Regions from separate parts of the Homo sapiens genome. Here region 2 is linked to region 1. Evidence: fine-mapped expression QTL. Tissue or cell type: whole blood. Region 1 holds a variant in brackets; the other region holds the start of a gene. All regions are shown on one strand. Distances are between the middles of the regions.

The links. PIP is the estimated chance that this variant, and not a neighbour inherited with it, causes the effect.
Region 2: NHSL3 starts here. The variant in region 1 is the best candidate, but not a certain one, in a credible set for the expression of NHSL3 in whole blood (TOPMed, PIP 0.50).

The regions. Positions count from the first base shown.
Region 1 is chr1:33,063,007-33,067,236 of GRCh38, forward strand. No RefSeq gene overlaps it. Among named protein-coding and RNA genes, the nearest start is that of AZIN2, 16 kb to the right of the region's middle. The variant G/A (reference allele first, on the strand shown) is at 1,914.
Region 2 is chr1:32,739,995-32,744,224 of GRCh38, forward strand. NHSL3 (NHS like 3) reads left to right here and starts at 1,836. Exons shown (of 7, transcript NM_020888.3): 1 at 1,836-2,195. The coding sequence starts at 1,961.

The DNA.
Region 1 (4,230 bases):
ATAAAGCAGTGTCATAGATGGGCCCATTGAGAACCTAGGCAGCCCGAGAGGATGTCACAGAAGAGCTCTGAGAGCAGTAGCTGACCCATGATAGGGTCTGATGAAAGCACCATGCCACTTACTCGCTATGACCCTGGGTTACCCCATTTATTTATTCATTCAATAGGTATTTATGGACCATCTGCTGTGTGCCAAGCACTGCTTTAAGGGCTTGGGATATATCAGTAAACAAAAAGTTCAAAGATTCCTGTCCTTAGGGAGCTTAAATTACAAACAGATTTAACCTATAAATTTTAAAGTATCCTAGAAAGTGAAAGGTGTTGTCGAAGAAGAAAAAGTAGAGAGTGGTAAGAGGATTAAGAGTGACAGCAGTGCACAGAAAGGCAGGTTGAAATTTTAAAGGGGTGATTGGGTAGGCCTCCTTGAGAAGGTGACATTTGAACAAAGACTTGCAGGAAGTGAGGGTGTGCTTTGTGCAGAGTGAGCCATGGGAATATCTGGAGGAAACATGTGAGGAAAAGAAAGAGAGATCAGACTGTTACTGTGTCTATGTAGAAAGAAGTAGACATAAGAGACTCCATTTTGTTCTGTACTAAGAAAAATTCTTCTGCCTTGAGATGCTGTTAATCTGTAACCCTACCCCCAACCCTGTGCTCGCAGAGACATGTGCTGTGTTGACTCAAGGTTTAATGGATTTAGGGCTATGCAGGATGTGCTTTGTTAAACAAGTGCTTGAAGGCAGTATGCTTGTTAAAAGTCATCACCACTCTCTAATCTCAAGTACCCAAGGACACAATACACTGCAGAAGGCTGCAAGGACCTCTGCCTAGGAAAGCCAGGTATTGTCCAAGGTTTCTCCCCATGTGATAGTCTGAGAGATGGCCTCGTAAGAAGGGAAAGACCTGACTGTCCCCCAGCCCAACACCCATAAAAGGTCTGTGCTGAGGAGGATTAGTAAACGAGGAAGGCCTCTTTGCAGTTGAGATAAGAGGAAGGCATCTGTCTCCTGCTCATCCCTGGGTAATGGAATGTCTCGGTGTAAAACCCGATTGTATGTTTCATCTACTGAGATAACAGAAAAACCTCCTTAAGGCTGGAGGTGAGACATGCTGGTGGCAATACTGCTCTTTAATGCACCAGATATGTTTATGTATGTGCACATCAAAGCACAGCACCTTTTCTAACCTTGTTTATGACACAGAGACATTTGTTCACATGTTTTCCTGCTGACCCTCTCCCCACTATTACCCTATTGTCCTGCCACATCCCCCTCTCTGAGATGGTAGAGATAATGATCAGTAAATACTGAGGGAACTCAGAGACCAGTGCCGGAGCAGGTCCTCCGTATGCTGAGTGCTGGTCCCCTAGGCCCACTTTTCTTTCTCTATACTTTGTCTCTGTGTCTCTTTCTTTTCTCAGTCTCTTGTCCCACCTGACAAGAAACACCCACAGGTGTGGAGGGGCAGGCCACCCCTTCATCTGGCGCCCAACGTGGGGCTTTTCTCTAGGGTGAAGGTACGCTCGAGCGTGGTCATTGAGGACAAGTCAATGAGAGATTCCCGAGTAAGTCTACAGTCAGCCTTGTGGTAAGCTTGTGTGCTCGGAAGAACCTAGGGTAACAATGGGGCAAACTAAAAGTAAATATGCCTTTTAGCTCTATTAAAATTATTTCAAAAACAGGGGGAGTTAGAGTCTCTACAAAAACTCTAATCATGCTATTTCAAACAATAGAACAATTCTGTCCATGGTTTCTAGAACAAGGAACTTTAGATCTAAAAGATTGGGAAAAAATTGGCAAAGAATTAAAACAAGCAAGTAGGGAGGGTAAAATCATCCCACTTACAATATGGAATGATTGGGTCATTATTAAAGTAGCTTTAGAACTGTTTCAAACAGAAGAAGATAGCATTTCA[G/A]TTTCTGATGCCCCTGAAAGCTGTGTAATAGATTGTGAAGAAGAGGCAGGGATAGAATCCCGAAAAGGAATGGAAAGTTCACATTGTAAATATGTAGCAGAGCCGGTAATGGCTCGGTCAACACAAAATGTTGACTATAATCAATTACAGGAGGTGATATATACTGAAACGTTAAAATTAGAAGAAAAAGGAACCTTAGATGTAGACCTGTTAAAACAGGGAAGGGTCTGAGTAACCATGGAAAATATGGTCACTCTATTCAGGGTGTTGGAAAAATACTGTCCTTGGTTTCCTGAAAAAGGAACCGTATATGTAAAAGTATGGGATCGTGTTGGTTCAACATTCTGGGAGCTGGTCCCAGCAGGGAATTATGTTCCCGTCACTGTTTGGGGTGATTAGGCCTTGGAACGTGCCATCCTAATACCTCCTCAACTTTCCTCTCCCACACGGCCTTCATTATCTGATCAGCCTCTTCCTTCGGCTACTCCTCCCCCACCTAACGATGCTGAAAATTCAATGTCTAACTCTGGTGACTTTGGCTTAAAGTTACCCCCTACTTATCTTCTTTTCATGAAGAACTGGTACTTGAAGCTCCCGCGGCCATGACTCACACAGCCCAGGACCATAGATATGCTAATTCTTGTCTCTTCAAATGGCTCCAGGACCAAACTACAATTTACCTATAATTCTCCAGGCCCTCCCCCATCCACTACAGCCCCTCACCCTCCTGTCGTTTCGGTTCCTCAACCGGTCTGTGTCGATATGCACTGCTCAATCTTACTTTTTTTAAAAGAATTTAAGGATGCTTGTACTCAGTCAGTATGGTCCTACTTCTCCTTATGTTAAAATGGTATTACAAACTTTTTGTATGGAGGTCACTTTACTTCCTTTAGACTTGGACCTTTTGGCAAAAAGCTGTTCTAACCCCATCTCAGCCTGGTGGGCAGAGGAGGCCCATGTTCAGGCTCAGCTAAATCAGACTAATGGCATTCTAACTACTCAGGCTCAGCTCACAGGCTCCAATAGTTTCTCTGATACTTAAGCCCAAGTAGGCTTTGATGCTCCTACCACAAAACAAGTAACAAAGGTGTGTATGAGAGCTTGGGATAAATTACGTGCCCCAGGCCAAGCTCCTGTTTCTTTTACTACTGTTAAACAGGCTCAATTGCTTTTACTACCTAATATCGTTTTAAACAAAGGAGATAAGACACGTGGCTCTGGGATAGACTCTGGTGGTAAAAAGGCTGCTTATTGGATTAATACAATTTCTAAACAACGGCCCACCTTCACCATACACATTCAAGGAAAAAAGTTTTGAGGGCCTAGTAGATACTGAGGCTAAAATTAATATTCCATATAACTCTTATAGTGTTCCCGGTCGGCATATGATGAAAAACATGGGTTTGTTCCTGGGCTAGGTCTCGGTCCGAAGCATGAAGGGATTATTAAACCCCTCCCAATTACTATAAAATAAGACAGTAATGGTTTAGATTATCCTTTTTAGTGGTGGCCACTGCCATGCCTCCTGATCCTATCCCTTTACAATGGAAATCTGACACACCTGTTTGGATTCAGCAGTGGCTGCTTTCTAAAGAAAATCTGGAGGCTTTAATTCAATTGGTTTCTGAACAGTTACAACTTGGAAATGTGGAACCTTCTCTTTCCCCCTGGAATTCTCCTATGTTTCTAGTAAAAAAGAAATCAGGCAAGTGGCGTATGGTAACCAATTTATGGGCCATTGACGCTGTAATTAAACCTATGGGAGCTGTCCAACCCAGCATGCCTGCCCCTGCTTTAATACCTAAAAATTGGTCTCTCATAGTTATTGGTCTTAAAGATTGTTTTTTCATATTGCTTTACATAAATCGGATTGTAAAAAATTTGCTTTTACTGTACCATCTATCAATAATCAGGAGCCTGCAGCTCATTATCAATGGAAAGTACTTCCTCAGGGAATGCTGAATAGCCCTACAATCTGCCAGCTTTATGTCGGACAAGTGCTTTCACTAGTTCGAGCCCAATTTCCCCAGGCCTATATTCTTCATTATATTGATGATATTTTAATTGCTACCCCAACTAATAAAGAATTAATTGACTGTTATCAAATTTTAAGCCGCTGTGTTACAGAGGCTGGATTACACATCACTCAGGATAAAATTCAACAGACCACTCCTGTTCAATATTTAGGAATGGTGGTCGATAAACAACGTATTCAACCTCAAAAAGTTCAAATTAAGAGAGTTTCTTTGAAAACTTTAAATGACTTCCAAAAACTTTTAGGTAACATTAATTATTTAAGACCTACAGACAGCTTATT
Region 2 (4,230 bases), 320 kb before region 1:
TCACTGCAACCTCCGCCTACCGGGTTCAAGCAATTCGCCTGCCTTAGTCTCCCAAGTAGCTGGGACTACAGGCATGCACCACCACACCCAGCTAAGTTTTTGTATTTAGTAGAGACCGGGTTTCACCATGTTGGTCTGGCTGGTCTTAAACTCCTGACCTCAGGTGATCCATTTGCCTGGGCCTCCCAAAGTGCTGGGAATACAGGCCTGAGCCACCATGCCTGGCACCTGTAACACTTTTCTCTTGAAAACTGCATTCTCTACATTCCCTTTCCTCACCAACTAACAGAGGAAGAGGCTGGGTTCTTAGGAGTGCTAGGCTGGGCCAAGAGCACCCAGAGTACAGGGCTGGTTCCTGATCCAGAATGGGTGCTCTGGGATTGTGGGCTGGATCTGAATGAATGGTGGTTAGACAAGAAACTGAGGCCCAGCATGGACACTGGGTGGTCTGCCCCAGGGCCCCCAGGTGGGAGAGTGTCAATGATGTCCCAGGTTCACCACAGCTGAGCCCCTGGGGACATGCAGGGGGCTAAGGCAGGTTAGGGAGATCCCACTGCACTCTAGTAATCCTGCAATGTTATGGTGAGTGCTATCTACAGTGCGCCGGGGCTGACTGGGCTGGGTGGCCCAGACAAATGGGCCCCTGCCCTCGTGGAGACCAGGACCAAGAGAAAGCCGTGTGACCAGAGTCAGATTGGGTGATTCTGGCCACCCCACTGGTATGGACATCACAAGGCCCTTCTGGGGACTGACGGAGGAGGTTCAAGGGTGCTGAACCCACAGCTGGTCCCCAGCGCAATTTCTAGTCCTTAGGGTTTGAAGCCTTGGACCAGCCTGAGACAAAACCCAGATGACCATCTTGGCTCCTCTCCCGCTGACCACCTCTGTCCCCTTCTGGCCTCCATTTCCGTTGTCGTGGGATCAGATGATATAAAAGGGCTTGGTCAGCTGTAATAGACCCAGAGGCCTGTAGGCAATGAGTACAGCAATTTCAGGATTCTTAATGTTTCCTTTCCTACCAGCCTCCCAGTCACACCTCTCACCTGCCCAGAGTTCAACCCTAATTAGTGTTGAGCATCTCAGTGGGAACTCCTGGTCCAGGCAGGAGTGCCCTGGGGCCTCAAATCCTAGTCCAAGGGTAAACGGAGGAAGGGCTATCCTCATCTTGCCACCAAAGGGTGAGGCAGGAACACAGTGGACCTGGGCCCCCGCTGCACACCGAAGATGGTTGGAGCCTGGAAGGTGTGGTAAAGAGCGAGGAGGCGACCCCAGTCAGCAGATGGGAGGGAAATGCCCACTGCGGGTCACAGGTCTTGGACGTGTCTGAAGCCTCTATTCCTGGCGCAAGCGCCCCAACACTGTCGGGGCTTGGAAGGAATTCTCCAAATTCCCTTATTCCAGGAAAAAATATTCCAGAATCCCCTGTCTATTCCCAGCCCAAACTTGGGATACCAAGTCTCCTGGGGTCCAACCCCAGCCTCTCGCTCCTCCTTTCCTGCGCCCTTCCCCTTTCCGTCCCCACCCCATACCACCCTCTTCCGAACAGATCTCCCGCGGTGCCCCCTGCGGGACGGAACCTCAGTGCCGCCCCCTCCCGGGCGGCCCCACGACCCGCCCTCTCGGGCCCCAGCGGGGGGCACGACCCCGGGCTCCCGGGACCCCCTCCTCTCGGGACTGGACCTCGCCCTCCGCCGGGACCGGGGGAGGCGGGGAGGGGCCGCAGGCAGCGGCGCTCCCGCCCTGCGGCCGCTCCCGCCCCGCTCCTTCCCTCCCCGCCGGCCTGCGCCCCGCCCGCCGCTCGGCCGGCCCCTCCCGCGCCGCTCCCGCCGTCCGCTCTCCGCGCCCGCTCGGCCTCCGCCGCCCAAACTTTTCTCCGGGCGCGCGTCCCCGGCGGCCGCCCCCGGCATGGGCACCGCGCCGCAGGGGGCCTGACCCGCCGCCCGCTCCGCCCCCGCCTGCCATGGCGGCCCGCGCGCCCCCCGCCGCACCTGCGGCCGAGGAGCCGGGGAACCCGGGCGGCCCCCCGCGCAGGAAGAAGTCCCGCTCCGGCGCGTCCGGCCTCCGCCGCGCCTTCAGCTGGCTGCGGGGCAAGCGGCGCAAGAAGAAGGCGGCGGGGGCCGAGGGCGCCGAACCGGCCGCCCCCCGGGCCAAGAAGGCGGAGGACAAGGCCAAGAGGGCCAAGGGCAAAGGCCGAGGTAAGGCGGTCGGCACCTGGGCTGAGCGCGGGGGGGCGTCGAGGGTGCGGCCGAGGGGGCTCTGCCGGGGGTCCGCGCGCGGCGTGTTGGAGGGGGGTGACCCCCAGGAGCTGGTGCTGGAAAGCGAAGAGGCCAGGGCTGAGTCCGAACACTTCCACCCTGCGCTGCCTTCCGCAGTTTCCAGACCCAGTCCTGCCCCGCTGTGAGGGGAGGGGACCCCCGGCTGGGGCAGGGATCCCCTGGCAGAGCAGGAAGTGCTGGTAGCCCGACTCCAGGGCGGTGAGGCGATTCCCCCTCCCCCAGGCTCACCGAGGTTCTGCCCTCTGCTGAGTCAGGGGGTCAGAGACTTAACGCTGGCCTGTGGCCAATGGGAGAGACAGGTGGCCTTGGGTCTCTGGTGGGGACCCTCTGGGTCTGGAAGGTCAACCGCACTCACAAAGAGTTTCAGCTCCAGCTGGATCTGGATTTCCAGCCCCACAAAGGACCTCACATGGAGCACAGTGTGCCCTGCCTTAGCTTCTTAACAGTGCTGGCTTTTCCCACCTGGCCTCCCTCAACGCTCACCTGGGCCAGGCCACAAACATCACCTCCTGGGGTAGTGAGCTCACCAAGGTGAACCAACCCGCCCCTCCCTATCACTCCTTCTTCCAGCCCTGGAGAAACATGCCAGTGTCGGAAGTGTGCTTACAGATGGGGGAAACTGAGGCCCAAGCTCAGTGGAGAGGCTGTACCTGGGCTGGGGTGGGTACTTAAAATTCAACAGCTAATTCTCAGTCTTTCTGAATTTGAGTCCCTGGGCTCCTCCTCTGGCCTGGACGGGCAGCCTGAAAGGCGGGGAAGCCGACCTGGCCCATCCCTGCTGGGGTCATTTTCAGTTCCTTTCTTGGGCCTTCCCTCATTTTCCAGTTTCTGTCTTCCTTTTGATGGGGAGGGCTTGAGTCTTTGCAAGAGGGTGGAGCTCCCTTGGGGCTTGCTGTCCTGGGAAGTCCACCTTTCCTAGACTGCTGCTGCAGTGCTGGAGGTGAGGAAATGGCTGGGTGTGCGGGCCCATCCCATTCTGCCTGTGTTTACCCTCCCAGTGTCCTTTAACCACCTCTTCTGGGAGAGTTAGAAGGAACACTTTAGGGGTCAGGAAGAGGGTGGAAAGCCTCATGTGTGATTGTATCCGGCTTGATCTTCCTTTTGGATAAGGGCCCTGCTTCCCTGCGGCACAGCCACACATAGAAGTGAGGGTGCTGGGGCTGGGGTGACTGGGCCAAACCCTGAGGGAGGACTGGATTTGGGTGAGGGGTGTTTCCAAAGCCTCTGCAGTCCTAACAGGACATGGAGTCTGTCCCAGGGCTGCCCCACTGGGATTCAGTCTGAAGTCATCCCCGTCTCATTCAAGAGGGCATTGCAGCAGGATGTATTGTGGTCAGACTGTCAGGATTGGCAGGCAGAAGGCTAGTGGACTAGCAGTGTATACTCCAGGGCAATGGACCTTTTTCCTCTGGGAGACCAGCCTGGAAGGCAGGGGGCTGGAAAAGCTGAGCCTGTAGGTCACTGCTCCAACAGCCTGGGTTTGGGTTCATTGGGTCAGTGGCCAGGCCTCCCTCTTGCCTTGTGTTTGGTATCAGGTGGCTCTGGGCTTTCTGGGCAGCATGTCGGCCTGATTTGAGCCCACGTGCATGGGTAACACCTCCTTGCCCCTGGCTGTTGTTTCTCCAGGTCTGGAGGTGGCCCTGGGTATGACTGGAGGAAGTCCTGTTCCCTTTTACTCCAGCCTCCTATTATTGCAACTGTTTCCTTGTCACCTGCCTGGCCCAACTTCTTTTCTGTTTATTAAGAGAAATAAATCTGATCCCACTAATCTCCACTGGCAACGCTGGCCAGGAACGGGAAGCCTGCAGAAGGCTTAACTCTTTCAGGGAGAATGTTCAGAATGGAGATTGGGAGAGGTGGGGAGGAGGGATACACAGGAGATTCCTGGGAGGTCAGGGATCTTTGCTGGGGAAGTCATTATCTCCTCCATTCCAATCTCTGGCTCAAAGACCTA